Regions from separate parts of the Homo sapiens genome. Here regions 1 and 2 are each linked to region 3. The links come from fine-mapping of genetic effects on gene expression. A gene starts in region 3. Each other region holds a variant in brackets. All regions are shown on one strand. Distances are between the middles of the regions. Region 1 overlaps PCBP1-AS1 (PCBP1 antisense RNA 1). Region 2 overlaps PCBP1-AS1 (PCBP1 antisense RNA 1). Region 3 holds the start of PCBP1-AS1 (PCBP1 antisense RNA 1).

What was found. PIP is the estimated chance that this variant, and not a neighbour inherited with it, causes the effect. A credible set is the group of variants that fine-mapping cannot tell apart.
Region 1: its variant is the best candidate, but not a certain one, in a credible set for the expression of PCBP1-AS1 in nasal epithelium (TOPMed, PIP 0.57).
Region 2: its variant is the best candidate, but not a certain one, in a credible set for the expression of PCBP1-AS1 in whole blood (TOPMed, PIP 0.79).

What each region holds. Positions count from the first base shown.
Region 1 is chr2:69,967,357-69,977,807 of GRCh38, reverse strand. All of the region lies in intron 9 of PCBP1-AS1 (PCBP1 antisense RNA 1), which reads left to right. It also overlaps a transcript of ASPRV1 not described here. Among named protein-coding and RNA genes, the nearest start is that of ASPRV1, 11 kb to the right of the region's middle. RefSeq lists enhancers at 1,051-1,561, 1,562-2,073, 4,778-5,655. The variant T/G (reference allele first, on the strand shown) is at 6,070.
Region 2 is chr2:70,005,650-70,016,100 of GRCh38, reverse strand. The region is part of intron 7 of PCBP1-AS1 (PCBP1 antisense RNA 1); the gene reads left to right. It also overlaps a transcript of ASPRV1 not described here. Among named protein-coding and RNA genes, the nearest start is that of ASPRV1, 49 kb to the right of the region's middle. RefSeq lists an enhancer at 5,480-5,549. The variant A/G (reference allele first, on the strand shown) is at 4,798.
Region 3 is chr2:70,080,600-70,091,050 of GRCh38, reverse strand. PCBP1-AS1 (PCBP1 antisense RNA 1) reads left to right here and starts at 4,036. Exons shown (of 11, transcript NR_033872.1): 1 at 4,036-4,073; 2 at 5,427-5,504; 3 at 7,364-7,513; 4 at 9,561-9,681. It overlaps PCBP1 (poly(rC) binding protein 1), which reads right to left and starts at 3,574. Exons shown (of 1, transcript NM_006196.4): 1 at 1,848-3,574. The coding sequence starts at 3,307. The coding sequence ends at 2,237. It also overlaps a transcript of ASPRV1 not described here. RefSeq lists silencers at 1,232-1,321, 1,412-1,461, 3,488-3,547, 3,998-4,147 and enhancers at 2,270-2,436, 2,508-3,152, 4,358-4,567, 4,608-4,697, 4,838-4,977.

The DNA.
Region 1 (10,451 bases), 110 kb after region 3:
TGACCCTCCAAAGATGCATTCCACCCAACTTTCCCATTGAACTAGTGGGGAAATGGTACTTTCTGTATCCAAATCTTAGCTGAAACCAGAATTGGGGTTATATTGACTAAAAGATCATTTGGGGCCACTTCTTTTCATTTGTATTTATTAGGCCCCTCCTAGGTGGTAATGGGCCAGGTAGAGTGAGAGTACAGTAGAAACCCAAGACGAAATTATCCAGGAAGGTCAACCTTCATTTTACAGATGGAGACACGATAGTTCAGAGATGCAGAGGACCTCGCCCAAGGTCACGCAGATACCGGGCCAGTCTTGGGTTTGGAACATGAGGTTCCTGCCTTTCAGCCCCGTGATCTTTCGACAGCATCTTACACAACTTACAGAATGGTGGGGGAAGCAGGAATCGCACCTGCAAAACAATGACGGAACCCTGAGGGGGCAGGGCTCCCATTGCCAGTGACTTCCCACCCACAGTGGCTGTCAGTGCCTTTATGTTGTTTACTTAAATGTGCTTGTCTGGAGGTTGTCATTTTCTTTTGAGACACTGGGAATTCCCATAATTTTTTAAAAAAGTTCAGTAAAATTGAATTTCTACATTTTTGCCCAATTTTTTTCCTTTTTATTTTTTATTTTTTTTTACAGAGTCTCACTCTGTAGCCCAGGCTGGAGTGCAGTGGTGCAACCTCCTCCTCCCATGTTCAAGTGATTCTCCTGCCTCAGCCTCCCGAGTAGCTGGGACTACAGGTGCGCGCCACCATGCCTGGCCAAGTTTTGTATTTTTAGTAGAGACGGGGTTTCACCATGTTGGCCAGGCTGGTCTCGAACTCCTGACCTCAGGCGATCCACCTGCCGCGGCTTCCCAAAGTGCTGGAATTACAGGCATGAGTCACCTTGCCTGTCCCATTTTTGCCCAGTTTGTGTCTCCTCGGTGTATGAGTGTGTGTGTTTTGTCAGGGGCACTCTGTTCCTATAGGTTGGTCTGATTTGGGACTCTCTCTGTGTGTGCTTTGATGGGGGCACAGTGACAGGAGATGGTGGAAATAAGGCGTGGAGAGGCTGTATTGTGCCATCATACCTTACCAGGACACTCTGTGCCTGGAGGGGGAAAGGGAGGGGGCCAGCCATGCCAGGCTGAGAAAGGGCTTTCTTAACCCACAAGTGTACAGGCCTTGAAGGCTCATGACTTAGGGTCATTGTCACCCATTCATTCAGTCAAATCTGGAAAGCATTCAAAAAATAATTAAAAAATCACCTCTGGGGAAAAGTCTGGTGTCAGGTTCAGAAAGGATTTGTTTCATATCCAGAGCCATGTCTGGGTTGTGTTCTCTGCTATCCAAGAACCCGAGGGCTCTCATTCAGCCTCAAGGGCTATGGAAGTGACTCCTGGTAGGTGGCTCCAGCACTGACTCTGGGCCCTCAGGGTCGAGGTTGCGGTGAAGACTGCGGTCTGCATCGCCTCCTGCCCCAGATCGGATTGGAGGGAGCCAGGTGAGCGTGAGGAGGAGGCAGTGTGGGGCTGGGCCTGGCTTCCAAGGAGAACTACAAGAAGACCAAAATCAGATTGGGATCTCATGGGAGGGCAGCACTGGGTCTGGAACGGAAGGCTTTGCCCACCTGGCCTCTACACGGACCACGTGGCCGGAGGGTTGGGCCTTCCAGGGCCATGCACCTGGGAGGGACAAGGCTGGGTGCGGTTGGGTCACATGTCTAACTTGTGTTCCTTTGAAGCTGTGAGTTGGACAGATTTTATCTTGCCTGTTTTGACCCTCTGTGAGCTAACAGCTGGGGGTGGGGTGGGGAAGGGGAGGACGGAGAGCAGTAAGCGTGCTGGTTCTTCTTTTGGTCTGTTTAGCAACTTCCCATGACTTTTGAGCAAGGAACAGGTGTAACCCCTTGCACCCTGAGGTGTGCAGTTGACTACATATGCCTGTGGCCTCAAGGCCATGTAGAAATTGTCCCTGGTTCAGCCAAAGCAAATTCAAAACCAAAAGCAAATTCACTGACCACGGGGGAAAGAGTAGGAGATATTAAACAAGCAGCTCTGCCTGGCCTTCCACTCACATGGCCATGAGGCCCATCATTCAGCACATCATCTCGGCCCCTACTGCGTGCTGGGCACTGTGAGGAGCTTCTGCCTCCTGTCTCCTTCACGCTCCTTTCCTTTCCCCTCCATAGCTCAGCAAGGCCCACATTTTCCCGGTGAAGCCACAGAACCACAGGGAGAAACCCATGGACTTCGCCTCTCTCTCTAGGCAAGTGAATTTGGTGGCAAAGTCTCTTGGCAAATTCAAATTGTACTTGCTACAGTCTTTTCCTCAAGTAATTCTGGGTGCTTTCCAAACTTACCAGTTCCCTGAAGTACATGGGAGGAGGCAGGGAAGCTTCTCGGGGGAGGAGCAGCACCGGCAGGGAGGCCGAGGGGCAGCAGTGCGGACAGGGAGTCAGGTGACGTGAAAGGAAAGGTGGGTTGCAGGCTGGGCTCTTGCTGTCTGTGGGCTCCATTCAGAATCCCCCACTTCACCTAGGACACTCTGGCCTCCGTCCAGGCATCACTGCCATGGAAATCCCAGATACATTCAAGTCCTCTGTTAAACACCTGCCTCCACATCCCCTCCAGATCTTCTCTGTCCTCAAAAGGAGCTCTGCCCTTCAAGGGAGGGGCTGGGGGCTTTGCAGCTTTCTGTGCCTCTGGCCAAGGCTGATCCTCCTTCCTCCTGCCTGAGAATCCAACCTTAGCCTGGAGCAATCCCAGAGGAATATGGGTGTGGGAGTTTGTCGCGTGTGACCCACAGTCGGCTCTGGGACCCCTGCCCCAGGAGCTCTGGAGGACTGTCAGACACAGCTTGTTGCAGGGAAGCTAGTTGACAGAAGATGTAACAGGAGTGTGAACATGCCATCAGCCCATACCCCGACCTCCAGGAACAGCCTAGCCTTACGGTTCTGTGCCCTCCTCAGCCCAGGGACTCTTCACCCACCCAACATTGTCATTACCCAAAACTATTTCACCTCTGCTCTAAACAATTCCAAAATCCCCATCCTCTGATCCCAGCCTTCTTCCTGTCCAGAGTTCTCATCCACAACTCCTGCCACCCCAGGGTGAATGGCGAAGCCCTCCACCAACATGGCAGCCCACAGAGGAGCAGACTGGAGAGAAAGAAAATGAGTTCAGTTTCGCTGATAGATCTGAAAAATATACATTGGGCAGGGCCATCAGGTTTTGGAGAGCCTTTTGAGGGCCCTGCTCAAGGAAGAGCTGGGCTTGGGGTTCAGATCCAGGTGTGCTCAGATCATACCAGTTCCTATGAGCTGATTGTTAAATCTTCAGGAATTTCATGAACCAATGGTTAAACCCAGCTATTATGAAAAATTAAATTATAAATTAAATTATATAAACTTACAATTAAATGAATTATATTAAGGCAAAAATAATAAATTTTCAAAAACCATCACTTCCTAATAATTTTTTTTTTTTTGAGATGGAGTTTCACTCTTGTTGCTCAGGCTGGAGTGCAATGGCACGATCTCAGCTCATTGCAACCTCCGCCTCCCAGGTCCAAGGGATTCTCCTGCCTCAGCCTCCTGAGTAGCTGGGAAAACAGGCATGCACCACCATGCCTGGCTAATTTTGTATTGTTATTAGAGACAGAGTTTCTCCTTGTTGGTCAGGCTGGTCTCGAACTCCTGACGTCAGGTGATCTGCCCGCCTCGGTCTCCCAAAGTGTTGGGATTACAGGCATGAGCCACCATGCCTGGCAATAATTTTATATTTTATTATTCTTTATTCTTTTAAGATTATGTACATCTATTACATCTGTGGAAATACTATATAATGTTGTGTTACTGTGCTTTTTCCCCAAGTCTGCATTCAGTGACATCATATTGGTGGATTGAAATCAGCCACAGTGGGAATATTTACACCACAGAAGTGGGCAGCAACCACCACAAATCAGGGCTTTATTCATTATTTGGTTGACTATCTAGACTTAAGAAGGTTATGGAGAAAATGCTAATAATGCACATTAAACTTAAATGTATGTTTTGCCAATGGCCATTGCATTGTGAATGGCACAGAAAAATGAAGGAAATATTCTTCCAGTATTCAAAAACTATTCTCTGCTTCAGTAAAGAAATTGCTAACACCATTGACAAACAAGTAAAGTTCTGGCCAGGTGCAGTGGCTCTTGCCTGTGATCCCAGCACTTTGGGAGGTCCAGGCGGGAGGATTGCTCGAGGCCAGGAGTCCAAGACCAGCCTGGGCAATATAACTAAACCAGTTCTCTACAAAAAATAAAAAAGTTAGCTGGGCGTGGTGTGCACTATCTGAGGCAGGAGGATCTCTTGAGCCCAGGCGTTTGTGGTTACAGTGAGCTATGAACATTCCACTGCACTCCAAGTTCTGGGCAACCCATTCTGTAAAAAAAAAACAACAAGTGAAGTTCCAACATCTGTCTTTCTGGCTTCACTTTTTTCTTGCTAGTTGGTACAAACAAAAATATCAGTTAACATTCATGTTGGAACTACATTCATTTATCAGTTACAACTGTAGGCTGGTTATAGATTCAGCAGGTTGGCAAAAATCAATGAAAGCATCCTGTAAGACCCAACTGGCCATATGCAATTTACAGTAAAGAGTAGTATATATTTTTTATTATTTGTAAATTATTAGCCATCCTTTATGTCAATAAAATTTATCATAAATGTATGTATGTGTATATATGCATGCATTTTCCCCAGAGAGCTCATTGTTAATTAAACATCTACCAGCATACTACTGGGCAGGTTGCCTTAGTCTGAGGAGTGGCCAGAGATTTGACTCTGGAAAGATTCCCAGAAGAGGGTGGGAATGGCTGATGGAAAGAGGCTACTGAGGAGGTTGGAGGGGGCCTCAGGTGGAAGGATTAGCCTGGCCAGGCACAGAGTCCCTGAAAAGGGATGAGAAGTGAAGAAAACCTGGGATAGGGTGGAGTGAGAGCTCGCCATTTCTCTGCCAAGCAGGACGCAAGCCATCTTCTGCAAGCAGGAGGTGGAGAAGTGAGGAAGGGTGAAGGTTTGGCCTGAGTAGAGTAGTCAGTGTGGGGCCAAGAAAAGGGACCAGGGAGGACGAGGAAGAGTAAGGAGGACTGCAGAACACTCATGAAAACCGAGAGGACGGCAGGCCCGGCGAATGGCTCACGCCTGTAATCCCAGCACTTTAGGAGGCTGAGGCAGGCAGATCACCTGAGGTCAGGAGTTCCAGATCAGTCCTGCGAACGTGGTGAAACCCCGTCTCTACTAAAATTACAAAAAATAGCCGGGCATGGTGGCGGGAGCCTGTAATCCCAGCTACTTGGGAAGCTGAGGCAGGAGAATCACTTGAACCTGGGAGACAGACGTTGCAGTGAGCCGAGATCACGCCACTGCACTCCAGCCTGGGCGACAGAGCAAGACTCCATCTTGAAAAAAAAAAAAAGGGCCGGGCACGGTGGCTCACATCTGTAATCCCATAACTTTGGGAGGCTGAGGCAGGAGGATCACGAGGTCAAGAGTTGGAGACCAGCCTGACCAACATAGTGAAACTCCATGTCTACTAAAAATACAAAAAATTAGCCAGGCGTGGTGGTGGGCGCCTATAATCTCAGCGACTGGGGAGGCTGAGGCAGGAGAATCTCTTGAACCCGGGAGGCGGAGGTTGCAGTGAGCCGAGATCGCGCCACTGCACTCCAGCCTGGGTGACAGTGTGAGACTCCGTCTCAAAAAAAAAAAATGGTAAAGAAAACCTAGAAGACAGCAACCGAATCACAGCCATGAAAGCAAGAGGGTCGAGTGTAACCAGGTGCAGTACTGGCTAAGCCCCATGGTACGGATTGCTTGAATAATCTCCCAGGACAATCCTAGGAGGAAACCAAGGCTTGAAAGAATTAAGTCATTTGTCCACAGCTTGCAGCCAGTTAGTGGCTGAGTCAGGAGTTGAATTTAGGCAGCCTGGCCCTCTTGACAAGGCCAAAGACTGCGCAGAGGCACCTTTCTCCTCAGCAAAGCTCCCCCAGATGATGCAAGTTCAAATGCTCCAGGACGGAGATTGGCAGGGCTGGC[T/G]TGGCTACATGTCAAGGGCTTGTGGGCATCCTAAGGCTGGCAAAGCCGCCTCACATCTCCGGCCTCCCCAAACATTCTTGCACCTGATGCTCTTAGCACCCCGCACTGTCTGTTGAATCTAATTATAATGAATCTAGACTTGCATTTTTAAATATCTTTGTTATTTTACCTTCAGATAATTCATTCTTATTGTGTTTTTAAATAGTAAAGTATGTGACAGATTGGAAATTTACAAAACGATCCTGCGCCTTAGAACATTTGAGAGGCAGGGTCCTAACGTTCTATTCTAATCACATTGATCCCTTGCTGGGAGCCCTTAGTCATCCCTGCTGGCTATAGCAGTTTTCCAAATGGTGGGTGGGGATCAATTAGTGGGTTGGGAGATTAGTTTTCAGTGTCATTAAAAGAGTTAAAAAAGAAGTGGCCCCAAATAGAAAATATCAGAGTATATTACACATAGTAAATACATTTTGTTTTAGCTACATATATCTTCATGGATATGTGTACTGGATTATGATGAAAAATGTCTTTCTTACTATGAGTACAGTAAAAAAAAGCAACTTTTTTTTTTTGAGGCAGAGTCTTACTCTGTCACCCAAGCTGGAGTCCAGTGACATGATCTCAGCTCACTGCAACCTCCACCTCCCAGGTTCAAGCAATTCTCCTGCCTCAGCCTCCCAAGTAGCTGGGATTGCAGGTGCCCACCACCACACTTGGCAAATTTTTGTATTTTTAGTAGAGACAGGGTTTCACCATGTTGGCCAGGCTGGTCTCGAACTCCTGACCTCAGGTGATCTGCCCGCCTCGGCCTTCCAAAGTGTTGGGATTACAGGCATGAGCCACTGTGCCCGGCCAAAAAAAGGCAACTTTGAATGCTGCTCATCTGCAGTTAAAGAGCACTGCCAGGCCTGATATTCAAAGCCATCGAGGCAGAAGCAATTGCTGAGGAAGATCAGGCAATGCTTCATGGGAAAAAGGTGAGGACAGCCTGGGCTGGAGGATGTGCAGGTTGTGGATGAGACCAAAGGCCAAGAAACACCGGGACTTTCATGTTTAGACTGTACCAGTGCTGCAACTCAGAGAGGAGCTGGGCCTGGCAGTCCCTTATGATAGCACCTTAGAGGAGGGAGACCCTGAGTTTGCTAGGGAAATCAAAGGAGACTTCCTGGAGGTGGTAGTGTCTTAGTTGACTTCTCAGTGTTTGCCAGGAGAACAGGGGTGTCAGAGGGCTCATCTGGCTGAGTGGCTTGTGAAAAGGTATGAGAAAGCCCGTCCTGTTTGGGGAGCTACACGCCATTTTGTATAGGTAGAGCATGAACTAGGGAGGGGGACTTCGTGAGTCTTGTTGGGTGTCAAGATTTTATTTTGGGATGAAGAGCCATGGAGGAATTTTGAGCAGAATGGCATGAGCAGACTTACATCTTTGGAAGATGACTCTGGTGGCCTGAGGAGGGTGGATTAATGGAGAGGAGGCAGGAGGCAAGGAGTCCTGTAGGATGACTACCGACCTCAGCAGGGTGCCCTGAGGCCAGGGTGTGAAGAGGCATGGAGGCAGGAGAGAGACTCAGGAGGAGGAGCTGAGGGCACTGGCGACCCAGCAGTCCAGGTGGGGCCGTGAGAAAGGGGTGGAGGTGAGGAAGCCCCCTGTGTCTGTGACTCCGAGGGCTGGCTAGATAGTAGTGCCATTGCCAGATAAAGAACACAGAGAGCCAGGTGTGGTGGCTCATGCCTGTAATCCTGGCACTTTGGGAGGCCAAGGCGGGAGGATTGCTTGAGCCCAGGAGTTAGAGACCAGCCTGGGCAATGTAGGGAGACCCTGTCTTTACCAAAAAAAAAAAAAAATTTAAGAGAATTAGGCAGATGTGGTGGTGTGCACCTCTGATCCCCTCTAAGGTGGAACTGGAGCTGAGGTGGGAGGATTGCTTCAGCCCGGGAGGTCAAGGCTTCAGGGAGCCATGGCATTTCAGCCTAGGTGACGAAACAAACAAAAAACACAGGAGGCAGAGGGTGTCTGGTGAGAAGACAGCATGTTCACTGTTGAAAGTGGACTCGTAGGCAGACATGTAAGGTGGGCAGCTGGGGCAGTGGGGAGAGGATGGGTAAGCGGTGCAGAGAGGGGTGTCCCTGGCCTGGAGAGTGTGTGGAATGAGGGGGAATGGCCTGTAGACAGAGCCTCAGGGAGCCACATCTGTGAGTATCCAGGGAGAGAGGAACCCACAAAGGACAGAGGGGAGTGGTCGTAGTGGCAGAAGACCCAGAAACTTGGGATACAGAAACCAAAGGCGCAGAGAAGACCTAGGAGGAAAACAGCAGTGCGAGGGCTTCAGAAGGCCAGAGTCCTTGAGGCTGAGAGGGCCAGACTGCAGCCTCGGGGAACCGCCAATGTCCCTGGCAAGGCTGACGGCAGAGGGCGGTGAGGCTTTGTGTGTGAATGGAGGTAACACCATGAGGCAGAGTGTAAGCGGGCTGCCTCGGACCATGCCACACCGTGTGCAAATTAGAAAGGGGCACCCCTTCCTCCAGGCAGATTCAACCCCTCGTTCTGGCACATAGGCTTGGCAAGAGGAGTGCAGGCTATGCCTCAGCCTCCACCTGCCCCACAGTGGGGCATCTGTGCACCTTGGCCCTGTGAGTGTGGACCAACCCTTCTAGAAACTGCCTGTCAAGGAAGGCAACAAGTGGTCATTGACCAAGGAGATACAGGATCATGTGAGGGTTTTCTTTTTTAAGATGTGAAAGTCTCATGAGTGCTAATTTGGATAAAGGCAGGGAACCCACGGAGAGTGAGAATTTGGAGATTCAGGAAAAGAGTGTACATGACACGAGGCGGGAGGGTGCAAGGCTGGAGCGGCTGCCCTGGGAGACGCCCATGCTGCAGGGGAGAGTCCGTTCAGCAGCCGCCACACAGACCAGGGACACTGAGCCACAGTCGGGACTGCTTGTCCCCAGCGACCAGGGGTTCCAGTGCCCAAGACTCAGGCCCATGCAGACGGCCCAGGAGTGGGCCAAGAGCTGGGCAGACCAGGCTGGGGAGGGTCTTGGCACAGCCTTTGCTTACTTATTATTTACTTTTTACTATGGGAAATTTTCAAACACACCCCAAAGTGGTGAGAAACTCAAATAAACCCTCTTAGATCTATTTTCTAGCTTTAACAATAATTAATATTGCCAATCTTATTTTATGGACCAGTTTTTTTTGTGTTTGTTTGCTTTCCAAGACAGGGTCTCACTGTGTCATCCAGGCTGGAGTGCAGTGGTGCAATCTCGGCTCACCACGACCTCCACCTCCTGGGTTCAAGTGATTCTCCTACTTCATCCTCCCAAGTAGCTGGGACTACAGGCATGTGCCACCATCCTCTGCTAATTTTTGTCTTTTTAGTAGAGACAGGGTGTTTTCATGTTGGCCTTGAACTCCTGGCCTCAAGCGATCTACCCACCTTGGCCTCCCAAAGTGCTGGAATTACAAGTGTGAGCCACCATGCCTGGTCGATGTACCAGTTTTTAAAGCACCTTTTAAAAAACTTAAAATTTTAATAGACTTTATTTTTAGAGTAGTTTTAGATTTCACAGCAAAACTGAGTGAAAGGTACAGAAGTTTCCTATTTATTCCCTATTAAAAAACTTTATTTGGAAATTATTTTTATTTTTTATTTTTTTGAGACAGAGTCTTGCTCTGTCACCCAGGCTGGAGTGCAGTGGCTCTATCTTAGCTCACTGCAACCTTCGCCTTCTGGGTTCAAGCAATTCTCCTGCCTCAACCTACCAAATAGCCAGGACTACAGGCATGCGCCACCACGCCCAACTAATTTTTGTAATTTTTAGTAGAGCCAGGGTTTCACCATGTTGGCCAGGCTGGTCTGGAACTCCTGACCTCAGGTGATCCACCCACCTCAGCCTCCCAAAGTGTTGGGATTACAGGCATGAGCCACCATGCCTGGCCTATTTGGAAATAATTTTAAGCTTACAGAAAATGGCAAGAACAAGTTTTCTTAATTTGAAATAACTTTTTCTTATTAGAGGATATATTTACAGAATATCTGTAGAAGAAAGTTAAGATCATTCATGATTCTACTACCCCAAAATAACCACTGTCATTGTTTTGGTGTCTTTCTTCCTAGTCTTTTTTCTGTGTTCATAGACACTGTTTCCATTTTACCCAGAGACTATCCCAATCTCTCCGAGGCATCCTATCCTGTGCGTCCACATGCACTAACTCATTCTCAGGGCCTTCACTATCCACATCCCCCGCTCAGATGGTTTGCCTTTAGCAACAAAAATTAATCCAAGATTTTGGTCTGTGGATGCCCTTGTTCCCTGGTTTCAGGGCTACTGCATGTTTCCCCTGTAATATTCCTTTCATGTTTGTTTTTCTCTGGTGATAC
Region 2 (10,451 bases), 75 kb after region 3:
TGCTGTTGGATGGAATGTTCTTTATGTCTGTTAGTTTCCTTTGGTCTAAAGTGTAGTTCAAGTTTGATGTTTCCTTTTTGATTTTCTGGCTTTATTGAAAGTGGACTATTGAAGTCTCCTACTATTATTATTATTATGGAAATGGAGTCCTGCTTTGTCACCCAGGCTGGAGTGCAGTGGCAAAATCTCGGCTCACTGAAACCTCCTCCTCCCGGGTTCGAGTGATTCTCCTCCCTCAGCCTCCTGAGTAGCTGAGATTACAGGTGGGAGCCACCATGTCCAGCTAATTTTTGTATTTTTAGTAGAGATGTGATTTCGCCATGTTGGCCAGGCTGGTCTTGAACCCTTGAGTTCCAGTGATCTGCCCACGTCAGCCTCCCAAAGTGCTGGGGTTACAGGTGTGAGCCACCACACCTGGCCTAAAGTCCCCTACTATTATTGTATTATAATCTCTCTCTCTCTAGATGTATTGATATTTGCCTTATGTATCTAGAAGCTTTGATGTTGGATGTATTTACAGTTGTCCCTTGGTGTGGGATTGCTTCCAGTACCTCTGTGTGTAACAAAAGCTGCACCATTCAAGTCCCACAGTTGCCCTGCGAAACCTCTGTATATGAAAAGTTGGCCCTCCATGTACATGGGTTTCCCATCCTGTGAGTACTGTATTTTTGATCCTCATTTGGTTGGAAAAAATCTGCATATAAGTGGACCTGTGCAGTTCAAACCCGTGTTGTTCAAGGGTCAGCTGTATATTTACAGTTGTTATATTGTCTTGATAAATTGATCCTCTGTCATTATGTAATGATGTTCTTTGTCTTGTTTTACAGTTTTTACTTAGTCTGTTTTAAGTATAGCTACCCCTGCTCTCTTTGGTTTCCATTTGCCTGAAATGTCTTTTTCTAGCCTTTCACTTTCATTCTATGTGTGTTCTTAAATGTGAAGTTAATCTTCATAGGCCACATATAGTTGGGTCTGTTTTTAAATTTTTGATAGTATCCAACCTAATGGGTGTGAGGTGATAATTCTTTGTGGTTTTGATTTGCATTTCTCTAATGATTAGTGATGTTGAGCATCTTTACATATGATTGTTGGCCATTTGTGTCCCTTCTTTGGAGACTATTCAAAGTCCTTTACCCATTTTAAAAATGAAGGCATTTGCCCTTTGTTGTTGAGTTGTAGGAATTTTAAAAATATATTCTGGATAGTAAATCCTTTTCAGATATAAGATTTGCAAATGTTTTTTCCCATTCTGTGGGTTGTCTTTTCACTCTTTTTCTTTTTCTTTTTTTTTTTTTTTTTTTTTTGAGACAAGGTCTTGCTCTATTATCACTGGAGTACAATGGCGTGAATGTGGCTCACTGCAGTCTCGACCTTCCTGGCTCAAGGGATGCTCCCACCTCAGCCTCCCAAATAGCTGGGACTATAGACACATGTCACCACATCTGGCTAATTTTTTATTTTTTGTAGAGATGAGATTTCACCATATTACCCAGGCTGTTCTTGAACTCCTAGGCTCAAGTGATTTGTCTGCCTCAGCCTCCCAAAGTGTTAGGATTACAGGTGTGAGCCACTGCACCCGGCTGCCTTTTCACTCCTAATTGTATCCTCTGTTGCACAGAAATTTTTAAGTTTGATGTAGTCCCATATGTCTCCTTTTTTTTCCCCATGCTTTTTATGATTTCTAGCATCTTTTTGTGGGCTTATTGTGCTTGTATATCTTCTTTGGAGAAATGTCTGTTCAATTCCTTTGCCCTTTTTTGAATGGGGTTGTTTGGTTTTTCTGTTGTGGAATATTTAAATTTCTCTATGTATCCTCAATGTTAAGCCATACTAGAGATATGCTTTTCAAATATTTTCCCCCATTCTGTGCATCACCTTTTTTACTCTGCTGAAAGTGCTGTTTGATGCAAAAAAGTGTTTAATTTTCATGAGGTCCAATATATCTATTTTTTCTTTTGTTGCCTGTGCCTTGGGTGTTATATTCAAGAAATCATTGACAAATCCAATGATATGCTCTTCTACACTCTTAAAAATTATAGACAACCCCAAATAACTTTTATTTAGTGGTTTTAACAATATTTACCATGTCTGAAATATGATAAACATTAAAATTAGTATTTTGGAAAAATGCCATATTAGAAACTGATGATTTAAAAGTAACAACAATGAATCCATTACATGTGAACATACTGTTTTTTTGTTTGTTTGTTTGTTTGTTTTGAGACGGAGTTTCACTCTTTTGCCCAGGCTGGAGTGCAGTGGTGCGATTGCAGCTCACTGTAGTCTTCGCCTCCCAGGCTCAAGTGATTCTCATGCCTCAGCCTCCTGAGTAGCTGGGATTACAGGTGCTCACCACCACACCCGGCTAATTTTTGTAGAGATGGGGTTTCACCGTATTGGCCAGGCTGGTCTTGAACTCCAGACTTCAAGTGATCCACCCACCTTGGCCTCCCAAAGTGCTGGGATTACGGGCATGAGCCACTGCACCAGGCCAACATACTTTTTATAAAAACAGCTGTCTTCTCTAAAACAACAAAAAAATGTAGATAATAGTAGTATCATTTTATAGTTTTGCAACTCTCTTTAATGTTTGGCTTAATAGAAGATAGTTGGATTCTCGTATCTGTTTTTGTATTCAGTCTGTTGTGTATGTTGTTTTGATTGAAGTAGATGAAGGAAATCCAGCTACATACAGATTTGGAGTTGGAAAAAATAGTATTTTAATAACCTTTTTAGATCATGGTGGATACTCTTCTTTGTTATGTCATCAAAATTAGACAAATGGCAGTTTCTGAAAAATTAGTTGTAATGTGTGTAAAAAATTAGTTGAATCCATATCAGTGAACTCATACTTTTCTATATTAAACTTCATTGCTCTATCTTGCACTTTGAATGGGTCTTTTATTCATGCCTGATTTTGTAACATCATGCATTCGTCATTTTGAAAATGATGGTTCAGTGAATTATTCACATCTTCTAAATGTAGGCACATTTCAGTCTATAATATCAAAAACATATTTGTCAGTGTTACCACTGATTTCATCAGAAAAGTCTTGAGGTGTTAAGAAGTCTTTAGGTATCTACCAGCATGGATACACATTTTCCAAAATTTTAAATCTTCACTTGACAGCTCAAATTTTACAGTTGGCAACAAATACTGTCAGTTGTTTTCTATGAGGTGACAGGTTCACTTAATTCATTTTTGAGAAAATGTTTGCCAAATACCCAAGTCTGAATAATCATAGTTTGTTAGTCATTTTTTTCCTAATAAAAATGATGTTCTATGAAAAAGCAAGTAGTCAGCTTGTAATTCAAACAATCAGGTAAGTGCTTCCAGTACTTAGGTATTCAGCAGAAGTGCTTTGTGTACAGAGTATTAATAAGACATGTATTCAAGGGATAAGTTTTAATAAAATTAATAATTATTACTCTATCATGGACATTTTTACATTAAGTTTGCCTTTCTGTTGAACTGCAAGTACATGGGGGTGAAGACTGTGACTCCTGGTGCAGTTTGGTGCCTCTTCATTGACTTAAGGCTCTAGAAGGCACCAAATACTGTTGCTTTTGCATCATCAGTGCAAATGTCCGCAAAGTGAATGCTGCAGAAAAACTCTTGGTATTATTATAAAAATGATGTTGACCTTGGCCGGGCGCGGTGGCTCACGCCTGTAATCCCAGCACTTTGGGAGGCCGAGGTGGGCGGATCATGAGGTTGGGAGATTGAGACCATTCTGGCGAACACGGTAAAACCCTGTCTCTACTAAAAATACAAAAAATTAGCCGGGCGTGGTGGCGGGTGCCTGTAGTCCCAGCTACTCGGGAGGCTGAGGCAGGAGCATGGCATGAACCCGGGAGGCGGAGCTTGCAGTGAGCCGAGATTGCACTACTGCACTCCACCCTGGGCCACAGAGCGAGACTCATCTCAAAAAAAAAAAAAAATGATGTTGATCTCTTGGATCCCCCGGGAAGGGTCTTGGGGACCCAGGAGTCCAGGGATCATAATTTGAGAGCCATGGCCTATACGACCATGGGTACTAATAGCACATGCCTCCAGCACCCTCCATCAGCCTCCCTCGGCCTCATTTTCCTCAGTTGTAAAGGGAGGCCTGGGCAGGCTCTGTTTCTTCACACTGTTGGACCCTGTTTGCTAGCCCCCGAAGCTGCTTCTCCCTTAGCGGTGATGCTGCTTTCAGCTCCTGCTTTTCCTCCCTCTCTCATGCCTCCCTTTCTCTCCGTGGCTCCTCTTCCCCTCACTCTTTACAGGTTGGCATTCTTCTTGTTTCGTCTCCTCCTCCTTTCCCTGGATGATCTTATTTCCTCCCTGGTCTTTAACCATCACCTGCAGGCTGACAGCTCCCAAATCTCTATCTTCAATCCAGATGTCTGTCCCGGGCTCCAGTTTTGTGGTTCCACCTGAGACCTTTCCACCTATATGCTTTACAGGCAAGTCAAAGTCAGCATGTCTAAACTGGTTTCTTCGTCTTCCCCTACACATTGCTTCCTCTTCCAGAATAGACAGTCTTGGTTAATCCATCATCTGCTCAAATGCTTAAGCCAGAATCCCAGGAGTCCTCCTCCCCTTATCTGGCTCCCTCCCTTCCCTCATCTGCTCACCTGGCCTATCAGTTCTGCCTCCTAAACATTTTCCCAATCTCTCCCTGCTCTCCAGCCCCACCACCACTGCCTCAGCTCAGGCGCTCATCCCTTCTCACCTAAACGATTGCAAGGGTCTTCTCCCTGGCCCCCTGCCCCCTGTTTTCAACCTGTACTCTACAGTTCTGGTTGGAAACCACA[A/G]GAGTTATCTTCTCACACTTTTTTTTTTTAACTTTTAATTTAGGTTCAGGGGTACATGTGCAAGTTTGTTATATAGTTAAACTCGTGTCACAGGGGTTTGTTGTACAGATTATTTCATCACTCAGGTACTAAGCCTAGTACCCAAGAGTTATTTTTTTTGCTCCTTTCCCTTTTCCCACACCCCCCACCCTCCACCCTCAAGGAGGTCCCAGTGTGTATTGCTCCCCTCTGTGTTCATGAGTTCTCATCATTTAGCTCCCACTTGTAAGTGAGAACATGTGGTAGTTGGTTTTCTGTTCCTGCATTAGTTTGCTAAGGATAATGTGTTTTTCATTAAGTAAATACATATCGAGTACTTACCATACCAGGCTCTGTGCAGGCTGTGGGAATACAACATAGGACATAACAGATACTGTCCTGACCTCCAGCACTCACAGCATATGAAGGAGGAGAGAAAAGGACAGGGCACAGGTCATTAGGACCCAGTGCAGTGGGGAAAGATGGCAGAGGTGCTTGGGAACCCCTAGAAGTTTTGACTGAGGGCTGAGTCTGAGGGTGTTCAGGGAGCACTTCCTGGAGGAAGCAGCTCTCATGTTCAGACTGCAGCCTGGGTGGGAGTTAACTAAAAGAGATGGGAGTGTTGTGGTGAAAAACGTTACTGGAAAGTTTGATCATTTAATTTCCCTGTTAAATACTTCTCTTGTGAGCTTCACCACTGCCTGCAGGATCAAGTCCAAATTCCTTATCATGAAACACAACCTTTGTGGCCTCGTTGTCTGCCACTCCCCTGTATTCATTGTCATCAGCTTGAACTGCTTTCAGTTCCCCCCAACGCTGCTTGCTCACTCTCTCAGCTCCAGGCCTTTGCACATGCAGTTCCTTGTGCCCTCCACCCTTGCCACGCAAATCCCTACTGCCTATCTATCCAACTGTGAATCACCCCACGTCAGCTGTTCAGGAGACCTTCCTGGCCCCTCCCCTGTAGACTTTGTGGCTCCCTCTCTTGTGCTTCCCACCTGTACACACACCTGGACTCTTGTGCCCTTATCACGTCCTTAGAGCTTTTCCACTTGTGTATCTCCCGTGCCCCTACTTGACAGTGTGGGAACTAGACCCCTGTCTAGTTCACATACCCTCATCCCATGAGCATTTTGGGCATCCCCAGGGTGTGTGACTCTCCTGTGCTAGTGGACAAGGTTAGACAATTACCATTACCTTTTCGTCTTTTCCCCTCCTCCAGCTCTGTGACTTCCCTTTGCCCCTACCACACCCCATGTAGCTATCAGTTTTGCTGGACACGGCCACACCCATCAGGCACCCCATACCTGCTGGGAGTCACGGACACTCCTATAGCAGCAGTGCTGTGGGGCTGCTGGTCCCTGCATTGCCTTATAGAGCCGTGGGGCTTCGCCCTACAGATACATCTAAATTACAAATACCAGTCCAGCCCAGAATCAGTTCTTGCTGTTGAACGCAACTGTCTCTGGGTCAGCTTGTTGTGCCTGTTTTCCTTCTTCCCTTAGAAAGAGTTATTTCCTTCAGAACCTTTCTACCCCTCATGAAAATAGGCTTCCCAAAGGTCTGCCCACCAGCCAACTAGACAGATGTGGCCTGCATTGTCCCCCTGGAGGCAAAGGATGTGTGGGTATTTATTTATTTAAGATAGTAAGTTATGGCCAGGTGTGGTGGCTCACGCCTGTAATCCCAGCACTTTGGGAGGCCGAGGCGGGTGGATCACCTGAAGCCAGGAGTTTGAGACCAGCCTGGCCAACATGGTAAACCCTGCCTCCACTAAAAAATACAAAAATTAGCTGGGCATGGTGGTGCATGCCTGTAATCCCAGCTACTCGGGAGGCTGAGGCAGGAGAATCGCTTGAACCCAGGAGGCGGAGGTTGCAGTGAGCCAAGATCGTGCCACTGCACTCCAGCCTGGGCAACAGAGCAAGACTCCATCTCTAAAATAAATAAATAAATAAATAAATAAATAAATAAGACAATAAATTATATAAGCAGTGCTGAATACAGCTTCATCATTTAAAAATCCAAACAGTTTGGAAATATATAGACAAGTATATAAATGCTCTTCTTGCACCCCTTCCCCCATCCTAAAGCCTACCATACAGGTAGGCACTGTTAATTATTTGGTGGAAATGTTTACACTTTTTGCTTTGCATTTACACATGTGAGTGGCAGGGATAGTATCTGAGAAATTAATTTTTTTCTCTCCTGAATTTTCTCTTTTTCTGCCCTCACATTTATGGAGCTCATTACCTCCAGAGCAGCTTTTCAGGTTAGAAAACTGAATTTATCTTCAGGCATCTCTGGCTTTTGTGTGCTGAAAGCTTAAGCATTTAGGGCAACTCCAGGATTTGCTGAGTGGCTCATCAAAGGATGAGGATTCTCTTGCACAGACTGAATGCCTTGACTGGAAACGATGGAAGAAGGATTTCCTTGGGAGTGGAAAGGACCCCAACCCTTTTAGCCCTGTCCTCCCCAGGCTGGCTGGGGGCAGGACTACAATCCCAGAAGGAGGCAGTCATATGGTAGGGCTAGCCAGGGGTGTCCAGTCTTTTGGCTTCCCTGGGCCACATTGGAAGAAGAAGCATTGTCTGGGCCACACCTAAAATACACTAACACAATAGTTGATGAACTTAAAAAAAAAAAAACACACAAAAACATTTCATAATGTTTTAAGAAAGTTTACAAATTTGCATTGGGCCACATTCAAAGCTGTCCTGGGCTGCATGCGGCCCACAGGCTGTGGGTTGGACAAGGTTGGACTAGGCCGTGAAGACACAGGCAACCTGATCCAAGGTTCCTGGCTGCCTCTGCTGCCAGACCTGGCCTCTGCTGACTTCATCGGCAGCCTCATGCCTGGCACTTCTGAATATTCTGGAGAATTCAGACATACCTGAAATTAAGTTTTCTATTGTCAGGATTGAAGCTTACCATAATCAATGAGTTGAGTTATAGACTAAAATTTGATTTCTTGCACACCTGGATTTGTGAATGGAGATTCGTTCCTATGGCTTGTATTATATTACTCATATTCTGCCACTTAAAAAAATTAATAAGAAATCTTGAAAAATTTTCCACAGCAGCGGAAATGAATGAATGAGATAGATTTATCTCATTCAAAAGATGAATATTATTATTAAAAAAAAAATAGACCGGGCACGGTGGCTCATGCCTATAATCCCAGTACTTTGGGAGGCTGAGGTGGGCAGATCACTTGAGGTCAGGAGTTCAAGACCAGCCTGGCCAACATAGTGAAACCCTGTCGCTACTAAAAATGCAAAAATTAGCCAGGCGTGATGGAGCGTACCTGTAGTCCCAGCTACTCGGGAGACTGAGGCACGAGAATTGCATGAACCCAGGAGGCAGAGGTTGCAGTGAGCTGAGATCACACCACTGCACTCCATCCTGGGTGACAAAGTGAGACTCTTTGTCGCTAAATAAATAAATAAAAATACATACTCATAGTAGGAGACTCAAAACAATATCAAAGGAGAAAGCAAAAGTTCCCTGGTCCTCCAGTCCCACTCCCTAGATATAATGAGCTTCTTGAGGGATCTAGAAACTTTCTGTGCAGTTAAAGTCACATAGCTATTTATACATAGCTCTTTTTATATGCAAATAAGCTCAAATGATATATACTTTTCTGCATGTGTATCATCTATATTATAAAATTTAGCACAATTTTTCTATTATATATATATTCATATTTATTACTTATTATTAAATACGCTCTACTTATTTAAGTAGATATAGTTCTTTTTTTTTTTGAGGCAGGGTTTCGTTCTTGTTGCCCATGCCGGAGTGCAATGGTGCGATCTTGGCTTACCACAACCTGCGCCTCCAGGGTTCAAGCAATTCTGCCTCAGCCTCCCAAGTAGCTGGAATTACAGGCATGCGCCAACACGCCCGGCTCATTTTGTATTTTTTTAAAGTAGAAACGGAGTTTCTCCATGTTGGTTAGGCTGGTCTAGGACTCCTGACCTCAGGTGATCCACCCGCCTCAGCCTCCCAAGGTGCTGGGATTACAGGCGTGAGCAACCTGCGCCCGGCTTAAGTAGATAGCGTTCTACTTCATTTCTTTCAATGGCTACCCAGTATTTCACAGAATGGATATGTCACATGTATTTAACCAATGATTGGCATTTAAATTCCCAGATTTTTAGCTAGCATTTATTGACCACAGACTATGTTGTTGGAATATGGTAAGTTACATAATCTTTGTAGCAGCCCAAGAGATAGGTCCTTTTACTGCCTGTATGTCACAATGAAGGAACTCTGTTGCAAAGAGGTCAATAACTTTCCCAAGATCACATACCTGGTAGGTGGTAGATCTGGGACTTGAACCCAGGCAGCCAGGCCCCAACCCAAGGCTGCACTCTGGATTAGTATGCCACAGCCCCTCTGTAGACCCCGAGCACTTGTGCTGGTATAGCCATAAAATACACTCATAGCAATGTACCTGCTAGGTCAAGGGTATGTGCATTTTACACATTAATAGCGCTAAATGATCAGGATGTTATTTTATGTAAAGGGTAATGGGCTTCTTTTTATGACCAAGTACAGATCCCACTTGCTTCCTGAGAACAGAGGGGCTGCTGATGTTCTTGTACCCTGAGGCTCTATGAAGTAAGGGTGTTCTCTCTGCTTTGGCCAGGGCTTCAGCTCTGAATCCTATCTGGCCCTCTTCCCTCTGGGCTGGACTGGGCTCCCATGAGTCTTGGTGTCCTCTTATGCCCTCTAACCGAGGCCAAGGCCACTGGGTGCTGGAGAAGGCTGCCCCTGTACCCTCTTGGTCTCCTAAGTTTGAAGGTACCTCCCAGCTAGAAGCCACCTAGATCCCATTTTCTTTCCATCTGCAAGAGGGAAGATTTACACCCACCTAAGGAAACAGAATTGGCCTCCTTTGCCTCCTCATTTGCAGCTCCTACACCTAACCGTAGGGGGCCCCACTGTGGGACCTCCAGGCCTTGGTCCTCCCAGACCTTTGCGGAGGTGGGAGGTAAGATTGTGTGTCCTGGCTTCTCTGTGGCTGTGGCTTTTATAGGACTGTATCAGTGGTTCTCAAACAGGGACAGTTTTACCCCCCAGCCCCAGCACAGGACACCTGGCAATGTCTGGAGATATTTTTAGTCGTCACAACTTGGGGTGTATGTGTGTGTGCGCACATGGGCATGGGCATGTGCATGTGCACATATTCTACTGGCATCTAGTGGGTAGAAAGAGGCCAGGATGCTGCCAAACATCCTACAATGCACAGGACAGCCTGGCCACAAAGAATTATCCAGCTCAAAGTGTCAATAGTGCTAACATTGAGAAACCCTGGGCTATCGAAGGGCAGACAGTGCCCAGCACATGGCTCTCCCCCATGGCTCCTGAGTCTCTATGTAAACAGGGGCTGAGGGGTGGGTGGTATCTGGGTTGAAGGGAAGTGGCTTGAAGGTGTATTTACAAAAAGCTTTTTATAAACAATGAGTAGATGCGAATTTCCCTCTCAAAGAACAGGAGAATGGCTAGTGAAGTTTGGGGGTGGGTAGTGGGATAGATTGTCATTCTCTACATGCAGTCACAAGCTATGGAGAAATTAAGGATGTTGAAGACACTACAAAGTTTACTAAATGTGGCTCAGCTATTCTCAA
Region 3 (10,451 bases):
GTTTCACCATGTTGCCCAGGTTGGTCTCAAACTCCTGAGCTCAAGTGATCTGCCCACCTCGGCCTCCCAGTGTTGGTATTACAGGCATGAGCCACTGCACCTGGCCTAATTTTTGGTATTAAGACCTGCTTTTCATAGGGCATTCAAACTGCTTCACCCAGCATTTCAGGGATTCTTCAAAGACTATTTGGCTTGGTGTTTGAGGGTTCAAGCTTATATCCCCTCTTGCCTTGATTTGGATTTGTGCTTATTGTTCCCAGAAGGCATGGTACCCACTTCTGGGTCTTCACTAGGTCCCCCTCCCTCCCCACCTGTCTTGGCCTCTCAGTCCAACTCATTTAATACACATTGCTTTGTTTCCTACCTTTTAATCATCTGTCTTCTCTGCCCAGATTTTGTGGCCAACCCTCAGCCCCCAGAAATGGGCCTTTTGGCTTTTTATAATCGAGTACACTGAAATTTACTGTGTTCTAAGCACTGTTCTGTTTTATATACATGCTTTCATTTTATTTTCACAAGCCCAGAAGGTGTTAATTTTAACATCTTCATTTATAGAGATTAATTTGTCCAAAGCCATGAATAGGAGGCAGAACTCAAATTTGAAAGCAAGTCTAACTCCAGAATTTGGGCTCCTTTCAGTGACTGCTTGCCTAACCCTGCGTGACCACATAATAAGCCTCAACGAATATTTACTGTGGATAATACTCCCCTCCCACAGGAACTTCTCTTTGCCATGAGTGATCTCCCATAGTGCCTGGGGTTTGAACTACCCACTTTGGCACCTACTGGTCTATTGTCTGATACTATTGTTTCTTCTTTCCCTCATCTCAGGCTCTATTTTCTCATACTATTGTTTCTAATGTTGCCTTTGCCTAGCAGTTTTCCTTCTCTCATCAGGTCAGGGATAGTCCTATTGGCTGACGTGGGCGTGAGGGTGCTACGGCCTTCACAGCGGGATCTTCCTCCTCCACTGAAGACAATCAGTGGCATTCAAATCTAAGACTCCTTTGGGGTGTTTGTTAAAAATACAGCTGATTAGTTTTGGGGTGGGACAGAGGAATCTGCATCTTTAACACTCAGATCATTCTTAGGTTATAGTCAGTGCATCAGTCTACATTCCCGCCTTGTGAAGACTGACCCATTTAGGCAGGATTATTTCCTGGTATAGGGATTCTCTAAACATTGCACACAGCTGAAGAATTGGAAACTGGGCCTCTTTTGTTTCTGGATACACCACTTGGCAGGTGTAATAACATCCTCTGACAGGCTGCTTGCCACAGGTGCATGCTTGACACGTGCGTCTCGTTGGTACCGTCCCCTCCCCCCTTCCCACCCCTGCTGCCCAACCAAGACCCCTCTAGTCCCACCACCACCCGGCAGCTGTTGCCCTCCTCCAAGCCCCCAATCCTCCCCGGCCCACTGCCCTCCCTTCCTTTCCTTTCCCTGCCCCCACACCCCTTCCCCAGGCTCCTCCCACCCCAGAATATTTTTTTGTTCCTAAGTTTATCCTGTGAGGTGGGGGTGGGGGAACTGGTTAGATGGAGAGGACGCTCTGCCATTTAGAGGTCCTACTGAGTGGGCACACCTTTTCCCCTCGAGAAAACCTTGTTTCTACCAGAGAAATGGGCAGAGGCCTCTCTCTGGAACTTGAACCTCTCTGTCCCTGGAAACATCCCAAAGCAGGCCCAGCCTGCCATGTTCCTTTGTTGGGGCACAGAGGGAATGGAATCTTACCGATAAGGTGAGAAGAGCTTGAGAGAATACCAAGGACGGGCCCACCCTTCTCCCTCCTCCCTCCAAACACCTCAGGCTAAAAGGGGAGGGAAAAAAAAGGCACCAACAAAGAGTTTAAGACAGCAATTCCCAGCTTTTTCAAATATGAAGCATTTTTTAACCAATCCGTTTTTTAATTCTTAAATTCTTGACATTACAGAACTAAACTGAAATTTATTAACATTCCACTCTTACATTTCTTATCGACAAACAGAAATAAAATTCATGAGCCAAAAAACCCAAAACAAAACTAAAAACAGGGAAAAGCTTATAAAACTAAATATGGATCCCAGCATTAACAGCTGAACAGAGAATGTGATTTTTAAATTCTTAGCGGATGATAAAGTTGTGTAGAAACTGAACACTTACAAATTATTTAAAACCTGGAATCACTGACCAGAAATTACACAGTTGGATCATGGGAGAACAGCAGAAAGGGGTTATTGAGGGAACCTACACTGTTCTAGCTGCACCCCATGCCCTTCTCAGAGGAAAGCCTGGCATTGATTAGATACTGGGCCAGACTAATACTGGCAGCAGAGCCAGTGATAGTAACCTGCCTACCAGAGGAGCCTTCCACTGGGTTGGCAATTTTGATCTGGGCCCCGGACATCTGGCGGATCTCATTAATGTTGGCGCCTTGGCGCCCGATTATGCAGCCAATTAAGTTATTTGGAATGGTGAGTTCATGGGTGGTTTGAGTAGATGCATCCAAACTTGCCCAATAGCCTTTCACCTCTGGAGAGCTGGAGTCAATTCCGGCGAATCCGGTCCCGCCGTGCATCATGGCAAAGTGAGACTGTTGTCTTGCCACCTGGTTCAGCTTGGCCAGATCGAGCGGAGAAATGGTGTGTTGTCCTTGAATCGAGTAGGCATCTAGAGGTGGTCCCTCCAGGTCATGGGTGGCATGGGGGTAGCCCGCAGCGTCGCTGCACCGATCTTGGCCGCCCGCGCAGATGACTGGGGAGCTGGCCGGCATGGGCTGGTACGGAATGGTCATGACTCTCCCTTGCGGAGACTGGGAGAGCGTCTCCAGCATGACCAGGCAAATCTGCTTGACACACTCGGTGACAGACTGCGGCACGCCAGCGATGGTGATGGCCCGCTCGGTGGAGTTGGGCAGCATATCCCCCGCCACCTGGACCTGCGCCCCCGTACTCTCGCGGATCTCTTTGATCTTACACCCGCCTTTCCCAATCAGGGAGCCGCACTGGGTGGCCGGCACCACCAGCCTCAGGGTGACCGGGGGCCTGCTGGCCGCGGTACTGTTGGTCATGGAGCTGTTGATATCTTCCTCCAGCTTGTCGATGATCATAGCGAAAGCCTTAAAGATGGCATTGGTGGGGCCGGTCAGAGTGATGATTCTCTCCGGACAATTCCCCTCCGAGATGTTGATCCGCGCGCCACTCTCCTCGCGGATCCTCTTAACCGACTCCCCTTTCTTCCCAATGATGCTTCCTACTTCCTTTCCGTGCATAAGAAGCCGAATGGTGAGAGTCACATTTAGTCCACTTTCAGTCACACCGGCATCCATGGCGAGCGGCGGGCGGCGTTCGGGGGAGTTGGGCTCGTTACGTGGTCAAGTCTTTGGCGGCTGGCGGGGGGAGGGGAGGTGTAGGCCCAAAACTGCCGGCGCGAGGCGAGCGAGGGCCGCGGGAGCGAGCGGGAGCGGGCGGGAGGCCGCAGCGTAGTCGCAGGGGCGGGCGGCGGCGGCGGAGGGGGCGAGCGGGGCCGGGAGCGGCGGGCGGGCGGGTGGGCGAGGGCGCGGCGGTGGCGACTCCGGCGGCAGCCTCGGCGGTCTGGGCGGGGCGGGAAGCCCGCTTTCAACCCCGCGTACCCTCTGACCCCGGAAGTGCTTGCTGCGCAGGACCCCTTGAAAAAAAATGAGGACCCGTCTTTTTTAGGTCACAAGATTGCGCCAACCCTTACATGGTCCTTAAAAAAAAAACCTTCTGACACTGCAGTAGTGAAAATGAAGCGCACGATGGGCGGAAGCTGTGAGTCCGGCAAAGTTTTAAAATGATGACGTATTTTATTAACTCTAACGGCACTGGCGGGTGACTGAAAATACTAGTGCTGTGTATGCGGGATAGACATTATTTTCCTGCCCTACATGAGGGGCTCGTGCGCGGAACGACATGGGCAGCCCCGGCGGAAACTGCAGGCACAAGCCGGGACGCCGCGGGTTTAAAACATGCGCGTGAGGTGACCAGAGCGCGTGCGCGAGGGTGTGGGGGGATGGGAGGGGCAGCAGCCCTCTTCCGGGGGGGAGGGGCGGCGAGGCGAGGCCTGCGGAGCGGGTGCGCGCGGGCGGGCACGTGGGGCCCTTTCGTCCCCGGCGTCCGGGCGCCCTGCATGGATCCCCCACCCCAGCTCCTGCTCCCCGGCGGCGGCCGGTGGGCAGAAAGACCGAAACCCACTCACGGCCGCCTGCCGAATCGCGGCTCTGCTGTTTGTGGGGCGTGCTAGAAACGTGGTCCTAAAAAGAATGGCGTCCATTTACATAATGCTTTGTTTGCGTTTCGCAAGTTTCTTTCGGTTAAAGCCACAGAAACCCCACCTCCTGCCCTTGTGTCGTTTCCACCGCGGCACCCTTTTCCGACATTAGAAACAATAGTGTACGCCTGTGGAGGCCTCGTTTGTTCAGGGGCTGCCGGCCAGGGCTTCAGGACGTTTCTGCGGCTTTCCCCGCGCGGCCTGGGCTCCCGCGGCTGCTTTTCGGGCCCATGGGCGCAGCCACTGCGCCAGGCTCAAGGGGGGCGGCCCCGTCAGGGCCCGCCATCTTGGAAGGCCTTTTTTGCCGGTTCTTCCCGCTGAGGAAGTGTCGCTCAAGACGCTGGCCTATGAGTTGTGATTTCTGCCTTTTCCCCTTCCTCCTTGGGCTAAGCCAGACCAGAAAGGGCCCCGTGCGCAACGTGCTTCACAATCTCTCAGGGAAAGCGGCTAACGTGGCGCTACTCCGCCTCCCCTGTTCCTTACCCTTGGGGCGGCCGCCATGTTTCCTGAACACAAAATGGCGACACGTGGTTAGCATTCGTCGCCAACGAGAAATTGGGGTCGGCCCGAAAGCTCTAGAATGCACCCCTCTTCCTCCCCGGGGCCTTCCACCTCCGCGAGTTTTATGACTTAAAAAAGCCCACAGGCTGGTCTGAAGGTCGGAGGCCTAATTTTAACGCGTTTTCCTCCCTTTAATTTGAAACGGGAACGCGAATGACTGTAAAATGTGGGCACAATATTTAATCTCTCGCCTTTTTAAAGCTTAATAGTGGATAATAGGGGGGCAGTATCAAGGGATAATTTGGGTCCCCACAGTACCAAAGCATTTAGAAACCTCTGTTTAATTTAAGGAATGAGATAAGTTACTGCTTTTCTAGACTTCCTAGCATGGGCTGTTGTGCTGGAGAGAACGAGAGCTACGAAGAGACTACAGTGCCTCTGACTTTTTCATAGGACAGTTGGCCGGTGAATCTTATTAATAGTTTACCACAATTAAGTGTTCATTTTTAGTCTAGAAGGGACAGGCGTTTATTGTGCATTGGCCAGTGCCAGCACATCCGATGCAAGGCAGTTCACCGTATTCTATCTTTAATTTTTACCATGGTCCTCTGAGGTAGGTGTTCTTATCTCTCTCTCTCTCTCTCTCTTTTAAACAGAGGAAGACAAACATAAAGATGAAGTGCTTAATTCAAGGTCACACAATGTCGGGGATGGACCTCCAGATTTCCTTACTGGTGAGCACATTTTCCAGGTTTTTCTGTAAATCAGGGTTTTGGAATTTAAATACTATTTAAAACGTTTAGGTGAGCTTGTCATTTAAATGAGCCCTTCAGGTAATCTTTTGTTGTGCAGTCAGCCCCTTTTTGTATCAGGCAGCTCCCAGCTTTTCCTGATAAGAGCTACACCTGTAACGGGCGGGCGGGCTGAAATGCTGTCTTATGCAGTGTCTGGTGAGGATAGGGAGGGGGAAGTGATTCAGCCTGCCCAGAGGCTCAGGTGTCTGTCGGTCTGGCCCTGTCTGTGGCACATTTGAGCCTACCTGCCTCTGGGGGAGCAAATGGTTTTTTGTATGACTGACTTGCTTCCGTCAGCTCCCCATGGGCTTGACTCTTGCCTCCCCCACCCCAGCACCCCAACCAGGTAAAAATAAATTCGCTCTGGCACCAAGCCTCCATTTCTCTGCAGAGATTGACAGAGCATGACAGAGTGTTAGGTCAGTCTGTGGACTCTTCAGTTCAATGCAACACGTAGCTAGTGGGCCAAGCAACAAACTGGTGCCTGAGCAGGGCTCTGATTGTGTGTGGATATGAGAGACAAAGAGAAGGGCTTTTTGCCTTTAACTTATGTTACTATCAGATATATTTTCCAAAGTGGTTTCATGTTAGTTTATATAACTCTACGAACATTTAATAGGTACATAACAGCAACGATGACAGTTACAGCACTAGGTGCTTACTGTGTGCTGGGCATTGTTCTAAGCCTTATTTTATGTATTCAGTGTCTCACATTTTTAAAAAAACCACTAAGAAACAAATTTTACATTATGATTTAAGACATTTATGCACACATATGTAACAAAATTTTTGCAAAACAATATTTGTTACTACATGCAGTATATGTACTTGGGTAATTTCTATTCTTTATATATAAAAAGGACACATTATAAAGTGATTAAAAACCCATTAATAAGTTGTGACCGCTTATACACATTTAATCCTCACAAAACCTCCTGAAATGGGTGGTGATATTAGGTCAGTTTTACAGAGGTACAGATTAGTGAAGGAATTTATCCAAGGTCACACAGCTATTAAGTGGTAAAGCAAGGATTTGAATTTAGGCAATCTGAGTCCAGAGACTCCATTCTTAACCACTAAACTGGATGTGGTCTCTGCAGAGAGTCCTGTCTCATAGGGAGACAGAATAGATGAGGGAATTAAAAATATTACCAAGTGTTAGAAACTCAGGTGACAACAAAAGGACTAAATTGCATATAATCAAGGAATGTTCAAACAAAGCCTTCTTCTGGTCTTTTAAATCTAACTTATTTCTTTTCTCTAGAGAAAATTTTATCTGTCAGGTCTTTCTTTCCAAGACTACCTACTGAAATATTTCCATAATTTCCTGTTATGTACTCCTGGGACTTAGTGCACCTCCTCAGTGAAGCCTTCCCTTTCCCAGCTTCCCCAGCTCTTAGCCTCCCTCCTTCCCCGAGAGTCTTAACAGTTTCTCCCTTCGGTAGCCCACGTTTGGACGTTGGTTAAATTGTAATGTGTCTTGGGGTTGGTAACATGTCATACAGACACCTTGGGTGATGCTGTGGTCTGGCAAAGAGGTCATTGGACCTTGGAATCTGAGGCTCTGGGCCCTAGTCCTAGCTCTGCCCCTGTCTAGCTCTGAGACTTCTACAACTCATCTGTCAGGGTTTCAGTTCTCCCTTTTATAAAGCAAGAGATTAAATGATCTCTAAGGGTCCTTCTACTTATGTCCAGGGACTGATGATATTTGATGACTTTGGTTATTTTTCTTTGGCGGGGTGGGAGGTTTATGTAAATGTTTTCTGCACTTTTGGTAAAATCTCCACTCCCTTCCTCAGACCTGCATTATCTTGTGGATACCTGAGTGAATTCCACACCACCCATTTTATAGATGAAACCACTGAGACATGGAGCAATTGACTGAGTAGTCACTGCCCCACCCCTGCCTGGAGCCTCACACATGACTCGCCTCCTCTCAGTGACCACAGGTTGGTTGAGGGGTTTAACAAGGCTAAGAAGGTGAGTCAGGTTTAGACTTTGGAAGTTGAACCACAGGATTTATGCTACATACAGAGGAATGATTGTTGCTTCCTCTTATGTTAAGTTGGTATGTCACGTAAAACCTTTCAGAGTGCTTTCACGTTACTTGTTTAATCATCACAGACAACTTTGCCAGTAGGGTCTTATGCCCATTTTACAGAAGAGCCATTTTTGGATTAGAGGAGTGAAGTGACTTGCCCAACGTTACACAGCCTGTTAGAATTTGAGCTGAACCTCTTGACTCTTAGTTATGGATTACACCTTTCCATGGCTTCTGATGCTTTTGATATGGACTTTGATGTGTGGGATAGCTTTACCTTAAACTCAAAAGGCTTTCTAGCCAGTTACTATTTTTCTGTCCCCAAACAGCCAATGCATTTACCTTAAGTTCCTAACTCTTGTTTTAGAAAATCTCTTCCCTCTTTTCCCTGATGTTTACATTTATGGGTTTGGAAGGGGTGGGAAGGATTCCTCAATAAGACTCTTATGTTCTCTGGGGGCAGGGACCACATTTATTTTCTGTAACCTACCTGGTTCAGCAAGCATACTATGGTTGTTTAATTTTTTTATTTTTAATTTTTATTTATTTTTTGAGAGAAGGTCTTGCTCTGTCACCCATGCTGGAGTGTAGTGGCTCCATCGTAGCTCACTGCCACCTCTATCCCCCAGGCTCAAGCAATCCTCCCACCTCAGCCTCCTCAGTAACTGGGACTGCAGGTGTGTGCCCACCATGCCGGCTGATTTTTAAGTTAAATTAATTTATGTATTTATTTTTGAGACAGAGTTTCGCGCTTGTTGCCCAGGATGGAGTGCAGTGGCGCGATCCTGGCTCACCACAACCACTGCCTCCCAGGTTCAAGCGATTCTCCTGCCTCAGCCTCTTGAGTAGCTGGGATTACAGGCATGTGCCGCCACACCCGGCTGATTGTGTATTTTTAGTAGAGACGGAGTTTCTCCATGTTGGTCAGGCTGGCCTCGAACTCCTGACCTCAGGTGATCTGCCTGCCCCGGCCTCCCAAAGTTCTGGGATTATAGGTGTGAGCCACCGCACCCGGCCTAATTTTTTTGTTTTTATTTTTAGTAGAGATGAGGTCTTGCTGTGTTGCTCAGGTTGGTTTTGAATTCCTGAGCTCAAGTGATTCTTCTGCCTCAGCCTCCCAAAGTCCTGGGATTTCTGGTGTGAGTCACCATGCCTGGCCTATAGCTATTTAAAGTTGCCGTACTGGCCAAGTACTGTGGATGAGGTGGTGAGGCGGGTAGACCATCTGAGGTCAGGAGTTCGAGACCAGCCTGACCAACATGGCAAAACTGTGTCTCTACTAAAAATACACACACACACACAAATTAGCTGGGCGTGATGGTGCGTGCCTGTAATCCCAGCTACTCGGGAGGCTGAGGCATGTGAATGTGAACCTGGGAGGCAGAGGTTGCAGTGAGCTGAGATGGTGCCACTGTACTCCAGCCTGGGAGACAGAGTGAGACTCTGTCTCAAAAAATAAAAATAAAAAATTGCCCTACTAACGTAGCTTTTTTTTTTAAGTGGTTTCTTTTTCTCTCTTAAGATTTATCTTTCTATTTCTCTTTTATTTAAAGTAATAGTAGTCTGGGCACGGTGGTTCACACCTGTAATCCCAGCATTTTGGGAGGCTGAAGCAGGAGGATCACTTGAGTCCAGGTGTTGGAGACCTGTCTGGGCAACATGGTGAGACCCTGTCTCTACAAAAAAATAAAAACATTAACTGGGTGTGGTGGCGTGCACCTGTAGTCCCAGCTACTTGCAAGGCTGAGATGGGAGAATCACTTGAGCCCGGGAGTTGGAGGCTGTATTGAGCCATGATCGCGTCACTGCACTTCAGTCCGGACAACAGAGTGAGACCTTATCTAAAAAAAGAAAATAAAAAATAAAGAGTAAATTGAGAGAGCCTTTCCCCTGTTACTTTCTAGGTTACTACAGTTGGAAATATATCTGTTGAAAAATTTTTTTTTTTTTTTAAGATGGAGTCTTGCTGTGTCACCAGGATGGAGTGCAGTGGCGCAATCTCGGCTCACTGCAACCTCTGCTTCCCGGGTTCAAGTGATTCTCCTGCCTCAGCAACCCGAGTAGCTGGCACTACAGGCGTGTTCCACCATGCCTGGCTAATTTTTCAGTATTTTTAGTAGAGATGGGGTTTCACTGTGTTAGCCAGGATGGAAAATTTTTTTATTTGGAAAGGAGAGCTTTATTTCTCATAAATAAATGCCAGGCTGGGAAGTGAGCCTCCAGCCAGAAGCCAGAAACAGGCACTTCCAAGCAATGTATCTTACCCATATTGTAGATAGTAACAATTTGACCTCATATGCTGGTGACCCTGCACTGCTGTTAGGAGATCACTTCTTGGTTCTCTGAGAAATGTAAGAAATGTGTTGGGGTTGGTATAGCTGGGTGTGGTGGCTCACACCTGTAATCCCTGCACTTTGGGCGCAGAGGCAGGAGGATTGTTTGAGCCTACGAATTCAAGACAAGCCCGGGCAACATAGGGAGCCCCTGTGTCTACCAAAACAGTTAGCCCAGCTGCTGGGCAGGTTGAGGTAAGGAGTTTCAAACTAGCAGACTGCAAAGTGGAGGACAGGGAAGGGTATTCCAGGCAGAGGAAGCAAAGGCCTGAAGTCAAAGAAAGCACAGTCAATTGAGAAGTTGTAGTCATTTCAGAAAGATATGAATGAAGGATGTTTACATTATCCAGTTTTTGGTGACTATTGTTTTGCTACTTCACTAGTGTATATTATTGAGATTTGACTATACTTGCTAGAGCACAGAAAGTTAAAGGCTTTATTTTATAGCAATAATTCTCTTTTAAGGTGAAGACATCAGAAATTATACTTCCTGTCCAGAGATTCTAAGGAGAA